Regions from separate parts of the Homo sapiens genome. Here region 1 is linked to region 2. Evidence: fine-mapped expression QTL. Tissue or cell type: sun-exposed skin. Region 2 holds a variant in brackets; the other region holds the start of a gene. All regions are shown on one strand. Distances are between the middles of the regions.

Region 1 (8,107 bases), 72 kb after region 2:
CTTCCACACAGAGAGATTAAGTTACTTGCCCAAGGCCTCGTAGCTACCAAGTGACAGAACCAATGGAGTAGAACTCAGACCCACACATTTAACTATCATACCACACTGCTTCCAAACTATCATCGTACTTTGCTGGTTACTTCAGAGGTTAGCCAAAACAAAGGATAAGCTGCAGTTATCCAAAGAGCTTACTTATATAGAATACTCCCCTCTTCACTAATGCTGGAAAAATGAGGTTTCACTTCAATGTAATTTTAAGCACATCTGATTTCAGGGCCTGGGCTTGCAAAATACATTATTTACTATGAAAATATGACATTTTGATTAAGAGTTGTTAAACATTAAAATGTTTTTATTGTAAAATAAATCATTAACTAGTAATGACATTTCCATTAACTACAGAGAAAAAAATACAAGCTCTTTATGCATCATTAGGAACAAAACTTTAGATCCCCATCTGTGCCAATATCAGTTCTGTACTTTCAAAACTGTCTTTGAAACATTGACCTGACAGTACATAGGTGTCTCAACCCAAACAGGTCATCCAAATCCAGTGCACCACCCCCATGCCCATCAGCTGCCTCCCATGCTCCCCATCTCAGAGAATGGCACCAGTGGCCCCCAGGCACCCAAGCTGGTAGTTAATCCAGGCCCATTTCTTGCCACATCCAGTCACAGAACATTCTAGAATCCCATTCTAACCTTACTGCCCCTGCTTCTGCTCAGACCCTTACCATCTCTCCCCTAAACTATTCCAGAAACCTCCTGACTGACTCCCAGTTTTCATCATTTCCAGCTCAGCACTGCTGCCAAAGTAATCTTTCTAAAACAAAATCTGATTATGTTACTTCCCTGTTTAGAATCTTTGTCTTCAGGATAAAGTGTAAAATCCTTCCTAGAACATACAAGGCTCTTTATTATCTGGCCTCCAACTACCTTCCCTGCTTCATCTGAGGTCGCGCCCCTACACATCTCACATGAGGCAAACAGAGCAACTTGGAACTTCCCAAACAGTGCTGCTCTGTCTGCCCAGAATGCAATTCTCTCATTTGCTCCTACTCATTTTTTTAGACCAGCTCAAAACTCAGACTTCATCAAGCTTTTCTCGGGGCTTCCCTTGCTTTTTGTACCTCTCTATTCTAACACTTATTCAACATGGCAAAATTATTTGTTTGTATGTCTGTCTTTAGATGACAAGGAATCTTCTAGCATCCTGCAACTTATTCATCTCTGTATTTCGTTTGTTGAATGAAATAATGTCTCAGGATTTAAGCAAGAATATCCAAACTGCTCTTGATAAATGCCCATTGTGTGAGTCAAAGGAAGCATACAGGCCAAATCCCGTTTCCATAAATGTCTTCTCATTGATAATCTTTATACATGGAAACTACTTGTTACATTTGTGTGCCTACATAAAGTCACAACCAACACAATGAAACATTTTTAAAAGATACATTAGACCACCAACTAACCAACCTGCTGAATATTTCTAGATATTCAAGCTATTTCATTCCACTCCATTTAAGTGGTCTTTAACTTTTTGTGGGTCACAGGCCAATTTTGGTAGTGTTTGTCTATCATTTCTTAAACCCACACTCACTTTTGATAACAATAAAAATCCCACATACCCGTGGAGACTCCTAAACCCTCCAAAGGGCACAAACCGCAACTCCGCTCAAAATAAAACATAACTTTGTATGTGGTAGGAATTCACAAGTTCATGAGAGATGTAATACATCAGCTAAGATACTACTGAGCTTTGCTCTCAGGTAGTTCATATTATTAAAACAGGCGTTTTCCTTCTCAATGTTTATATTGTATCAAATATAAACACTGTAACATTAAATATGCTCTTTCAAACTGCATACATCACAAAGTTTTTATTGGGAAGATGAAGCTGGAGAGGCAGTGACATCTGTCTCCCCAACCTTATGGTGGGGAATCTTATGATAGAAATTTGCCAGAAACAAATGAAAAACACAAATGGGAAAAAATATCCTGTCTCCTGGCATATAACCCCCAATGATCACTTATTTAAATGAAGGGAGTTCTTTTAAATGCTGCTGGCATGGCATTTTCCTACTTCTCCTACAACCCCACTTTTAAATAATTTAAACTTATAGCTAGCAGCAGCTTCTTTTTAAACTAATGTGTTTTGTCCCTGCAAAGACAAAGGGTTAAATTAAAGAACAGCTGGCTGCCTGCCATTGGCTGGGTGGGGAACGGTTGGGTGAGGGTAGAGAATAGAGTAGGAGGAAAAACCAGTTAGAAGAATAAGTGCTAATTTCTTACCCTGCCACATGGCCATCTTGATCCTATCTTCACCCACGCTGGGGTCACAGGCTGAGTTTCCCAGAGCCTCTCAGTTTTGTAGGGAGACTTGATAGAAAGGCAGCTATGTGGCCCTGTTTTCTCCAAGGGGCTAAAGCCCCAAACCTGAAAATGTAAACAGAAAAATGAATACCTAAAAGAAACTATACACTTCAAATGCTTGAAAATTATCTCCTGCTCCTCTCTGAACCTCTCTTTCAAAGATATGCAGGCATGGGTAGTGTCAAGTTTCCCTCTAAGCAGCAAGGTATCTCTGAAGAGAGAGAGATCTGGAGTGAGTTAATGTTGCCACTCAGTGCTATACATTTCTGCATGAATCATTAGAGCTTCAGTAAATGAGGTCTGAGTCTCAGTTGATGAGTTGCTGGATGAAATCACCGTTAAGCACCTTTCCTACCTTGAAGTTTCATGCTTTGGAGACTGAAGAGCAACATTAATATCCAGTGCCCTAACCAACCCCCAAAATACCCAACTTTACATTTAAAAATCAGTAGAAGGAGAGGAAAGTTTATGAATAAAGTTTGGAAACAGATCTTGTATAGGGGAAAAAAAAGGAAGCGGAATAAAAAGTGAAGAGTGATGATACCCTTTGAGTAGTAGTTCTCTCTCCTTGTGTCATTATACTTTCCCACCCTTTGCAAATTTCCTATAGTGAGCGTATATTGCTTTTATAATCAGGGGGAAAATGAACCAAAGAAGAAGAAAAATGTAAAAATGGAATACCAGTTTAAAGAAAACCAAATTAATTCAGCTAATTCCTGTTGTTAAAACTTCAAATCCAGTCCTAGGACAATATTTGCAAAGATATTAAAGGAGTTAGGGGCCGGGTGCGGTGTAATCCCAGCACTTTGGGAGGCCGAAGCAGGCGGATCACCTGAGGTCAGTTCGAGACCAGCCTGGCCAACATGGTGAAACCCCGTCTCTACTAAAAATACAAAAATTAGCCAGGTATGGCGGTGCACTATAATTACAAGTGACGCCTGTAATCCCAGCTACTCGGAAGGCTGAGGCAGGAGAATCGCTTGAACCCGGGAGGGAGGCGGAGGTTGCAGTGAGCCAAGATTGTGCCACTGCACTCCAGCCTGGGCGACAGAACGAGAGCCGGCTCAAACCAAAAAAAAAAAAAAAAATAGGAGCTAGGAATGGGAGAAAAAATGAGAGGTCTGACGACTTAGTTTGACTTAGAGGCTTAACACTCTGCTTGCCCATTTAAACAAGATCTCAGTTAATAAACTGGTCTTCCCTACTTAGCATACAAGCCAATCTGTTTTTTCTAAAAGTCTTCACCTTTTTGACCTGGTGAACATCAAAGTAGATTGTTATTTCCATATCTTTTATACAACCAACACCTCCACCTCCTAAGTGAAAGTGCTAAAGCACAAACACTGAAGGCTAATACTAGCTTGAGAATCGTGTTGGCCTTCTTTAATGACAAAAGGGTTAATGTGTACACCAGTCCCAAAACACCAACAGAGAAAAGACAGTGCTTTGGACAAGGAAAAGTTCGCGAAGTCCAAGAAAACTAGGAACTCACAAACTCCTAGGGTGAATTCAGCAGGAAAAAGCGCTCCGATGACTTCTCTGAGACCTGGGACAGTCTGTTTTGATTTGCCTTTTTTCTTCTCCTATTTCGCGTGCAGTTAAGAAGTAATGATCATCGTCCCGTGGGACTAGGCGAAATTTAACATCCCTGAAGTTAAACCCGAGCAGTTGCTAATAAATGTATGAAGTTTATGTAAAGTTGATTCGTGCTGGTTTTTTATGCTCCAAACTTCTAGATTTCCCTCACTTACTCGGGGCAGCTTCCACTGACGTTATCGCACGGGCACAGGTACAACTTCACTGGGAACTCCAGGCAACTGATTTGCTCTGAAATGTTAATCAAAGGAAACGTGCGTCAATGTAAAGGCAAAGCTTTTCCCGTGTGGATCAAGGCGCTCAAGAGCAAGGCTCGAAAGTCTGGAGAGAACCAGCTACGCGCGTTAAGTGGCAAAAGGAAAACAGCGCAGCAACTACTTTTCCGAGAGTTTCTCCACTTTGCTAAGACCCATACAAAACCAGCGGCAAGTCCAGAGCCGGAGGGAGAAGAGCCGGGCCTCGGCTGAGCTTTGCCAGCCTAAGTCACCCTACCCCAGTCCGGGAAAGGGGACGCAGGCGGCTAAACACTCCGATTCAAAAGCGGGGCGGGCTTGGCGCCGCTCCGCAAGGAAACTTCGCTCGGGCAACCCAGGGACCATAACTCGGAGAACAGGGCTGGGCTCCCGGGAAGACGCCGCTCAGCACTGGCTGGAACTAGCCTGTCTACCTCCTCTAAGCGCCGGGCTGCCAACGCCGGGCGCGGGGAAGCCCCATCTCCGGGGGTCCAAGCCAGCGGGATTGCGCTTCCCCTGTGTCGCTGCGCTTAGGGGGTGCTCCGGGGGTGGGCCGGGGGCCAGCGGCCCGCCAAGGACCTGTTGGGGAAGGGACAGCCCGTTTGCCTTTACCTGTCGCCGAGGTCCGGAGCGGCGGAGCCCGTGTCCGCCGCCGGTGGGCAGCGCGCTCGGTCGGCTCTGGCGTCCAGGACACCAAGTTGAGTGAGCGCCCCACGTAGCCGGCAGAGCTTCATTCACACAGCCCAGCCGGGGAGGAGGGGGAGCGAAGCGGGCGCGCGGCTCATGTGACAGGGCGCCTCGCGAGTATCGGCTCAGCCCAGCCAGCGTCTGCGCGTGCGCGCCACGCCGAGCTCACACCCGGCACCTCTACCCAGCCGAGATGAGGGGAGGCCCGCCGGGGAGGAGCTGCCAGGAGGAGTTTCAACTTGCGCAGCCGCAGTACGTCGGCCCCGCTCGCTGCCATATTTAATGAGGACTGGGCGGGCGGGTCCTATCCCAGTGCTGGGCGTGTCAGTTGCCTTTGAAAACGCAATGCCCCATTGTGTTTCACTATTTCCAGCTTGCAGTGCCTTTTTTTGCTGGGGAGAAGGTTTGTCCTTAGAATGAAACTGTCTATCCTGAGCTTTCGGCCCACAGAGTAATTAGTAGTAGAAATCTAATACTAATAACATTAGATCACATAATTTGAGCTGCTTCTTATGTGCCAGGCACTCTCCTAACCCCTTTACTTTTTTCGTCTCATTTGGTGTTCACAATAACCCCGAGGGTTATTTCTCCATTTTTACTCATAAAAATACACAGGCACAGAAAGGTTAAGTAACTTGTCTAAACTCATATAATAGTAGGAATAGGAATAGTGATCAAACGTAGTGATACTTTTAACAGCCAACTTGATGTTTCCAGCAACGCTGCAAAAACTATACTGCAGTTGTTAGTACTGTATTATCTCCATATTAATCATTACAAAACAGAGGCTCAGAAAAGCTGAAGTCACAGGACTAGTACGTGGTAGAACTGGGAATCCAACCTAGGTCTAACTTACTCCAAAGCCCTTACCCTAGGTTTGAAAGAAACAGCACACCGTTTTGCAGAAGAGAAAACTTAGGCCAAATGGGGTGCACTGACTCACTTAAGATGATCCAGCTAATTAGTTCTTGGCAGACCTGAGACTGGAATCCATATAATCCAAGTAATCTAACTAGAACCAGGGTACTCTACTGCAGTGAACAATTTGGAATGCCTACTTTGGACAAGCTAAGTGGTCAGGGATTTAAAAACCCCTATCCTAGCCCAATCAGCATAAGGCTACCGGGGACAAATTTGTAATCCGACATAGTCAGGCTTTGACCCATTGCAATATGAGAGACTGCACACGGTAGGCATTTCATCAAACAGAAAAACATGGAGTCATTATAGGATTGGAGAGAAGAGTGGAGTTTAGGTGAATTTTAAACAAAGCAGTGTTTTTGGTAAGCTCAAAGCAAAGCAGTACTGTCATTTGGGGTCACCATCAGGTCTGAACTGCAAAGTGAACCCAGAGTTGTGTTTCCTTGGGAACCACAAAATAAAGATAGATGTGGAATGTTGTGTCCAGATACCCCTTATCTGAAGCTCTGCACCTGGGTTGGAAATTGAGGCTGCTTCTCTGTGTCAAAGAAACTTATGTCCTCCAGATGCATGTGGGATGTTTCATTCTTACTGATACGATTTCAAGCAGAAAAGTTTCTGATAATCTACGATTTTAGAGAACAAAGTCTCTCAGTGAATAAAAAAGTGGTGGTCACTGAAATAAAAACATCGTTACCACTTTACAGCTGCAATATGTCCGCCAAAGAAATATTGTTCTCTGTTAAATTTGCATCTGGTTTTATCTGTGTGTTATTCCGGCCTGATGAATGGCCGGATTTTTATTTTTTCAGTCCAAAATTTTTTTGCTTTCTGAGCTGGTAACATTCAGTCCCTTCCTTCAGGCACTCATGGTGTATGGGATAGCCACAAATAACTAGAAAATATCAGTACAGGCCTCTAATAAAGGTAAATCCAAGTGGAGGTAACACCGTTGGCAAAGGTGAGCAGGCAGGAAGTTATATGTGAGGACCCGTGAGTAGTCCTATGTGGTTGAAGTTTAGGGTAAGGAAGTACAGGGGAATTGTGGAAGATAATACCCAGAAGGTAAATTGGGGCCCAATTTTGGAGCATCCTGAATATTGGACTAAGATTTATACCTAATTCAAAAAGTGACTGAGAAAGAATTGAGGTTTCTGAGCAAGGCAATCCTCTTTTGGAATTCATCTTTTAAAAGGTGAATCTAGAGTAATTGTTCAAGGAAAGGTTTGATTGTTTGCTTGATTTTTTTTTTTGTCATTGAAGTAGAAGAAACTGGAGCTTATATGTAGGTCGAGCAGAAAAACTACTGGTGAAATCAATAATAAAGAGGCAAGAGGCCGGGTGCAGTGGCTCACGCCTGTAATCCCAGCACTTTGGGAGGCCAAGGCAGGTGGATCACTTGAGGTCAGGAGTTCGAGACCAGCCTGGCCAACATGATGAAACCCCATCTCTACTAAAAATACATGGCTAGGCATGGTGGCTGGCGCCTGTAATCCCAGCTACTCAGGAGGCTGAGGCAGGAGAATAACTTGAACCCAGGAGGCAGAATTTGCAGTGAGCCGAGATCGCACCACGGCACTCCAGCCTGGGAAACAAGAGCGAAACTCTGTCTCACATACACACACAAAAGAGTCAAGAAAAGGAGGGGATAACTAATGGAGTAAAATAATTGAGAGGCGAGAAATGAGATTCAAAACACAAACTAACCTCGGACACCTCTTCCTCTGATACAGGAAAAAACGGTTTGAAGGATGGCAGTCTGGTTGGAAGGAGACATGTCACGAAACTGCCTCTGCAGAGCAAACATATTGGCTTTACTTAAAGTACATACAGGTTTATTTGGGAGAGCTGGGGAGCGAGTAGGAGGGGTTGGGAGGGAGCAAGGAATTGGGGGGAATTGGGAGTTATAAAAGGGCTGCAGTACACCCAGTTTACCACTTGGTGTCGCCACTGACCGATGACAGCTTGGAGGGCTCCAGTTGGGGGACGAAATCTCCCCCTCCCCCCAAAAAATGTGCATTTCAAAAAAAGAACATTTTATCTTTTGCGAATTGCAAAACAAAACAGAGTGAGCTCCAGAGCCAGACTGCCTGGGCTCAAAGCCAACCATACTCAGACGCTTACTAGCTGTGTCACCTTGTTCAAGTTATCTAACTTCACTGTTTCGGGTTTCTTACCTATAAAATGGGATAATAGGAGTAAATGTATTAACAGGTGTAGAACAGTTAGAACAGATTAAGCACTCAATAAATGCTAGCTTGTATTACTATTGATAATGATAATGATGATAATGAACA
Region 2 (8,107 bases):
CAGTTTTTTTAGGCCCACTATCCTTCAAATACTTCAACTCAGCAAGTTAAAAAAAAAAAAAAAAAGCAAAGTCCACTCTCCAATAATGCATGCTTGTGGGAAGAGCACTAAGAAGGCATGCTGGGTTTAAGAGGCAGGGCACAGCTCAGAAAGCTTGCACATCTGTAAACCTCATGTGTGGGAGGGAACTGAGACAGCTCACACCCCAATGTGTGAGGCATGTGAGACAAACAGGTAAGGAGTCACCTCCTCTCTCCCTCACAGACAGAGGATGTACACAGACGTAGGTCTAAGGAGGCGTGGGGTGATCAGGAGCCTCATCATCTTGTACTCCTGTGTGCATCATCTGTGTCGGGGGTGGGGAGGGTGTCCCATAATAATGCTCACTCTTGCCAACAAGGCCTGTAAGAAGGGCACTAAACAATCTCGACTCTGGATGCTGGGTGAAAAAAAGCAAGGGGGCACATAGCCTATGGCGGGGGGGTGGCACTAGAAAATTCACTCTCCTGTAAGTTGTGTATATAAGAGTGGAATTAAAAAACACACACACTACCATTCAAGGCAAATGGGAGGGTGAACACATCAGATGTCTCAGACTGTGTGTGTGTGTGTAGAAGACTCAAGCCAGCAAACCCTTTGCAGTGTCATGCATGGGTGAAGGAGAGAAATAACAAGAAGGCAAGATGGCTTGCTCTCCCACAGACTCCACAAATAGGAATGGGATCAGGAAAGCTCTCTCTCCTACAGTCAAGACATATAGACGAGTGGTGGAGTCAGCAGGTTCTTCTTTCTGGCACTCTGAGTGTGAGAGGGAAGGAGGGAGGGAGGGAAGTAGAGAAGGCACATTAAGGTTCATTTGCCTGCAAACTTAAAATGTGGGAGGGGGATTGTGAAAATCCACACTCTGACACTTTGGGCCCGAAACGTACCAAGCAGGTCAGAAAGCAGGCGTGCTGCAGGCCTGAGGTAGAAGGCTTGTTTATCTGCACATTTTGTGTGGATCTGCTCAAAAGGAGGCTCACTTTGCAGCACTACGTCTATGTGGGTGCCCACAAAATGGCAGGAGCAGAGGGGGTGGTGAGAGAGTAAGTGAGAAGGGTCCAGTGACCGTACCCCATTAAGTATATATTCCTGTGCATGTATGAGCAGGAATATGCAAACAGGAAATGGGGCTCAGGCTGCCATACACCTTCTACACCTGTGTCGTTTGAGCAGTACAGTATAGTCTCAGCTTTGGAATGCCTGGTTCTGCCATTAACAGCTGTGCCTAATCTCCCTATGCCTGCATTTCATCATCTGTAAAATGGGGAGGGCGGGAGTCCCTGATTCTTAGGGTTGTTGCAAGGATTAACCAGGACACTATGACCAGTGCTGAGCTCAGTGTCTGGACACTGCCAGTGCCAAATGTTAACTATCTTTGTTAGCATCAGCAACAGGAAAATGGGCCTCTCTAGGGAAATATCACTCAAAGATCCTCATGAATGCCCCTGACCCCAACTGTTTAGCTTCTCCCTTGTCTGAGGCCAGAAAGGAACTGCTAAAGAGTAGTGAGTTCCAGACTTTATGTTCAACAACTTGGGGCTAAGGGTAAAAGAAAGAGAGAACTAGGGAGATAGACACAGATGGGATCTTCAACAAAAAAATGTTTATTATTGGCCAGGCATGGTGGCTCATGCCTGTAATCCCAGCACTTTGGGAGGCTGAGGCAAGATGATCACTTGAGCCAGGAGTTTGAGCCCAGTCTGGGTAACATAGTGAGACCCCATCTCTACAAAAAAAAAAAAGGCCGGGCATAGTAGCACACATCTGTAGTGTCAGCTACTCAGGAGGCTGAGGTAGGAGGATTGCCTGGGCCCAGGAGATCAAGACTGCAGTGAGCTATGACTGCACCACTGCACTCCAGCCTGGGCAATGGAGTGAGACCCTGTCTCAAAAAACAAGAGTTTATTATTATTTGGAAGTAAAGAAGAAGGTAACAAAATGGATTGAAAACTAGGAAGACTGAATGTATGAGGTCAGGAGGTGAGGAGGTATTGAGGTAAGGTGTGAAGGGTGGGAACTTACAACAGGGACAAGTGGGGGGCAAGATAATAAAGGTATGACTTTGACATCTCTGGTGGAAACACTGCTGATCAGCAGAATGAGCTAGATAAATAACTCCTGAAAAATCCTGAAATAATGGTGTATTCAATGACTTCTGGAGTAAGAAAAACCCTAAAAGAGAGACACACATTTGGGGCTTGATAGGAATAATGTGATTGCTGTCCTCAAGGAGCTTCAAGGGTCTACATCAAGTAAGAGTCCTATGAAAAGTTCTCTGAGATACATCTTAACTCTGACACTGTATGATACAATGAGGACAGAATTAAGCCAGATAAAATGAAAATGCTGAACTACTGATACAAGGCAGTGATGCAAAATGCAAGAATTTAGAGAGGGGGAGGCACTGCTATAGATAAGATGAGTTGGAGTGAAGAGTGACCAAAGGGGATGGAAAAGACAAACACAGATCAGGAGGAGGAGGAGGTAGAGAAAGGTATTTCAGAAGCTAAGGAGAATATATAAAGTTACTACCTAAGGAGGCCACAAAGAAACCAGTTTGGCTGGAGTGGAGAGTTCTGACAGAGAGAAGAGGGTGAATAAGGTCAAGGCCATGCTGTGGTCCTTAAATGCTGCAATAATAATAATGAGGTGGACTATCAGTGTGGTGAGCAACCTCTTAGGAGAGGGAATTTTAGGTGGCCCACCAATGTTGTTCCTCTTACTTAATGTGTCCATTTGACTGTAAAGAGGAATACATTAAAACTAACCCTGACTCATGTTTGCATGGAGTTTATTGCTTGCAGTGAGGCTACATGTTTTAAAATACATGTTTTAATATTTAAAATGAGCTGATTTAAAAGAAGATAACAAGTCCAGATGGACATGAAGACTGTGAAGACAGTAACGCATATCATGGGGTTCGATGCTGCAAAACAGAGCTACAGGCAATGGGCAGTTACCAAAGTTTTATAAGTTGGAGAGTAAAATGCTTCTTCAGGAAGTTTAGTCTAGCAGCAAGTGGAAATATGGATTTGCACCAGGGAAATCAATTTAAAAGCTCAGCTCTCACAACTGACAGATGAGAGAGTTCAGGAGGGCCTGAACTAGGCTGAGTAGAGGTGAGAACAGAAAGGAAGTAATGGGGTGTGGAGTGAGGAGTGATTCAATAGATTTCAAGAGCAGAAACTGGTAATTCATCCTATGTGGTGTTTTATGAAGATGAATCTTACACAGTCTTCGGCACAAGGGTTGAATGAGTATGACAGCTGAGCTGATAGATGAGATAAGCACAAGGGACACTTTGAACAATCTACAGAACTTGGGTAATCAAGCTTGGGCATGATTATGTCAGAAAATGCCAAGGATTCCAGCACTAACACAGAGATAGATAATGGCTTAGGCCAAGACTTAGGTATCTGGAGTCTTAGCACCCTTCACTGAAATGGCCACACTGTATTGCAAAGCACTAAACAACAGAATGCCATATGCCACGTGGATAACAAGGCATTTATTTTGCTACTCTTCATCCTGGGCAAGCTACCTATCCTGTGCTGGTGCTCCTAATATGAAACTCTCATATTTCCCAACCCCTCCAGCTCTAAAGCCAGTACATAACACATGATAAAACTGGCAGCTGAATGAATTTTACTTTATTGCTCAAGGGAAATTTAAACAAAAATGACAACTTGGAAGGACTTTACTCATGAGCTCAAGTCCCCTGTAAAAATAGACACAGTTACACTATTCATTTGCTACATAAACTTATTACGTCTTACCATTTGGTAGATTGGCAGAATGAATAGGTTCATTATCTCTTCATTGATGCTTTTCTTAGGAGCTGTCAAGCCTTTACACTCTACATTTCCTCCAAGAACCCACTCTAAGAATGTCTCTGCTATGACTCGCTCACATAGCACTTAGACACATCCTGCCTTGCATTCCAGTTACTTGCACTGTGCTTTATCTCTCCCAGAGGGAAGGGACTGACTTTACCCTTGCTCGGAAGCCTCAGCTACAAGGTAGAAACTCCGTAACTATTTTCGAAAGAATTCTGTTTGCTTGGTTTAGTACAGCTACTCCCATTCTGTTTGAAGTATTGCCATTTCACGGGCCCAAAAATGTCTTATCAGCAGCTATCCAAATTACTTCCCCTTCGCCATTATTGTGCAAGAATATATGGATAAAGTGACTTACTAATTCAGGAAGATTTCAGGGCGTGTCGGGTTTAGGGACACACACTCCATCCTTCAGTCACTGTTCTGCCCAACCACCCACCTAAGGTGTGGTGACTACTAGAA[T/A]GACAAATGCCGCCTACACCTTACTCTGTAATTCTAAAATGTAAGCTTAGGAATACGTCTTGATCTGAATTTAGGTCCAGGAGGCAAGATATATTGAGTTGAAGGTTAATCTTTATTTTCTCAATGGGTTAGAGAAGAAAAAAACAAATTAGACAATCTGGGGAACCGGATTATAGTTCCAACCCCATTTCACTGACTTGAGTTGAGCCTCAAGAGCGAGAGGCTAATGTTTCTGCATCTTAGTTGCATCATACCAAAGTTGATATGAATATTTGTTTGGAGGGGTAAAAAGCCTGCTGAAACTTGGTGGAAGAATTCACCCAATCGTGTTTAACTGCTGTGACCTGCTGTATATCTGTTAAGAGAATATGCATAAACTTCTATCTTATGCTGTCCCTAGGGTTTATGCAGCAGAAGAGTCATGGATAAGATGCTTCCAGGAATATCTATCCTCTTGGAATAGAGCACAAAACTGAATAGGAGTGTATCAAATTCTGTACTATTGCAGGTTGTGTTATAATGAGATTCTAACTTTGCATGGCAAATGGGCTTAATATATACTAGACTTTAATACAGCTAAAAGGATTTTTAACTTCCTACTCTCCTCAATTTCTTCTTTTGGCATCTGACATAAGATGACTCCCTAATTCCTGAAATGCCCTTTTTAGCTTATATTATATGGTACAGTATTCTGGTTCTCCTACTACCTCTCTGATCCTTCCTTCAATATTTGTTGCCACTTCTTCCTTCCTCAAGGTTCCTATTGTGGCTAGCCCCCCACCACCACTCCACCTTGCCCCACCATACATCTGTCTAATCACCTTTCTCTGAATTCTATTATGGGTTACAGACATCATTATTCTCAAATAACTTCCAAATTCTAAAAATCTATTCCTGCTCTCCCATTCAAGCCACAGCATATTTTAAATTACCACCAAATAAAAAGTTTGACACTTGAAAAACATACCTAAACACATTACTGCTCCCCAAAGCAGATTTCTTTCTCCCCAAATTCTCTGCTATCACAATTGCTATTTTGATGTCACCTACTTAGAATGTCGATTCTCTTTTGCTCCCTCCTCTTTTAACCCCGGTATTTAATTTGGTACCAAGTCCAAACTTTCTTGTTTGCAGTATTTTGTATTTATTCCTTTACTTTCTATCCCTATTTTTCTCACTGATGTCCTGGCCTTTTCCTTAGGTTATTACTCTCCAAGGCCATTCCCTGTGGTTGGCCACATTCCATCTCTAACTCCCCTGCCCTGCTTCCCAGCTGCCCCACAGATCTCTTCTCAAGTCAAGCCAATTTCCTCATGGTCAGCCCCCACACCCACCTCTAACCAGACTTGTGTTACTGGGCCAGACTGGCCCAAATATTAACTGTCTTTAAAGGCTAGCTCAAGTCTCACTTCTTTCATGATATTTTCCCTTTCCTAAACTCCCTTAGGACAATGCCACTCACTACTTTATTGTGTTCTCATTGAATAATAAGCACAACAGAACCAGGATTCAGGCAAATTTACTCAGACCCTCCTTCACAATGCTAGATACACAATAGTTGCTCAAGAAATGCTTTTGGATTATATGATGATTACCATTCAAACTATATTATTTACTGTAAAACCTCTGCTCTTATTTCTCTCCCTAGTGATTACACATTGAATCTGGAAGAGCCAACGAAAGGACACTCTGGACCCCCTCCCTACTCCTGTCCTGGCTTTGGAATTTAGCACATGAAAAACACATATCACAGGATACTAAAAGTCCACAATTTTAGAACTTTAGTAACAAAAGAGCACAAAATCCAGCTAGATACTTCCCTTATATGTGGAAAAACTGCTTTTTCCCCCTTGAATTCAGGTTTAAACAAAGCCCTTAAATTAAAAAGCAAGGACAACCGGAAACCCTTCCTCTCCAGGTCTCTTAGGAGATGCTGCTCTGAGGTTGACCTTGGTGGTGGAGAAGGTGGGTGTGGGGAGGAAACCTTAAATGCCTAGAATCCACAGCTCAAGCCAAGGAAGGAAGAGACCCAAATCCACTGGGGCCAGCACATCTCCCTCTAATGCCAGAAGTTCACAGGAGTCTCACTTCCTAACTTGTCCTGCTGGATTCTTAAATCTGCTTAAACTATTGTATTGCTTAACCCATCACCCAGCCACCAAATAACAAGTTCTCCCTAGTTAGCTCAAGGAAATGACAGCACACCAGTTACACACCCTACTGTACTCTGCCTAACAGTAACTGCAACAGTTAGATTTTTATGGGTCAGCAGAACTTTATAAACTACTTTATAAACCAAGGAAAAATTATAGCTCTACATATATGCAAACCTTTATAATGGCAGTATATCCCTTAATTAATCATATGGGTAAGTAAATTACTTGCATTAAAAGCATCCTAAAAAAGTTCTTGGCTTGCCTCAAGGTTAATGGAACACTGAGTTAAGAAATTATTGCTAGGGGGAAAAAATAAAGAAAACAACATGCCGAACACTCAGCATATTGTCCTAGCGAAGTGTTAGTTAAGCTGCAATAGACTTTAGCAGTGTAAGCATTTTTCTCCTCAACACAAACTGTAAGTACAATATTTAAGTATTTCTTCTCTTCTTCCTTTTTATTCCTAAACTTTGGTTTGGAGATTCTGCCAGTGATGCACCTGGACAGTCACTGGGAATTTTAACAGGGGTAATGATTAAAATGTCAGCCCTACAAACCACATAGGGCTTTTAAGGAGAAAACAGGCAGATTTTCTAGCCATGGGTACTTTATGAGAGTTGTGTATAATCCTAGGGTAGGACATGAAACTGCATGTCAGAATTCATCCCTTGAAAGCTGAAAGAAAGCAGTAATGGTGGGAAAATGGGGAGCTGAGAACATTTTTGTTATTTTTCCAAGCTGAAATTTGGAAGGCAAAAAAAAAAAAAAAAGAAAAAAAGAGAGGGAGAGACCCCAAGAGAGAGACCCCGGGACCGTTTTGCAGATTCTATGGCACAACTCAAGAAGATGTAGCCAGCCAGCTCATAAATTTACCACTAACCACAACTAAATATAATTCAAAACACCTGGAAAGCTTTTTAAAAAAATAAATGAACTGAAAGACCCTATAGATTTGGGCTGTTGTCAGAATTTGTGCTGCCAGACAGATGGCGTCAATGCTCTCAGGACAATGAGACAAGTCAAAGGCTTAATTCATTCAACTGAGCAGCACCTCTGCACATGGATTACTATTTACACTTCATAACATACACACCCACTAACGCCATATGTTTAAGAAGACATCGCTGGGGCTGTGAAAGAAAGGAAAGAAAGTTCCCAGTGAAATTCTCACCACCCTTGGATACACGGGTGTCTTCACTTTCTGGTAAATCATGGAGCTGTAACTGGATTTGCACACTGTTTTGTAGGTGTGTTATATGTTAACAGGAAAGTTTTAAAACCCCTTGACATCCTTTGGCTAAACTTGTAGCATTATTAAACACCTTGCCAGAAAAACTCTTCTAGACATTGGCTTAGGCAAAGAGTTCATGACCAAGAACCCAAAAGCAAATGCAAGAAGAACAAAGATAAATAGATGGGACTTAATTAAACTAAAAAGCTTCTGCACAGCAAAAGAAATAATCAGCAGAGTAAACAGACAACCCACAGAATGGGAGAAAATTTTCACTAACTATGCATCTGACAAAGAACTAATATACAAAATCTGCACAGAACTCGAACAAATCAAGAAAAAATAATAATCCCCTCAAAAAGTGGGCTAAGGACATGAAT

The links. PIP is the estimated chance that this variant, and not a neighbour inherited with it, causes the effect.
Region 1: CLCN5 starts here. The variant in region 2 is fine-mapped to the expression of CLCN5 in sun-exposed skin (GTEx, PIP 0.94).

What each region holds. Positions count from the first base shown.
Region 1 is chrX:49,919,500-49,927,606 of GRCh38, reverse strand. CLCN5 (chloride voltage-gated channel 5) reads right to left here and starts at 5,011. Exons shown (of 15, transcript NM_001127898.4): 1 at 4,815-5,011; 2 at 4,125-4,200; 3 at 2,293-2,436. The coding sequence starts at 2,308. RefSeq lists a silencer at 4,700-4,749.
Region 2 is chrX:49,991,368-49,999,474 of GRCh38, reverse strand. The region is part of intron 3 of CLCN5 (chloride voltage-gated channel 5); the gene reads right to left. Among named protein-coding and RNA genes, the nearest start is that of MIR532, 7.7 kb to the left of the region's middle. The variant T/A (reference allele first, on the strand shown) is at 4,341.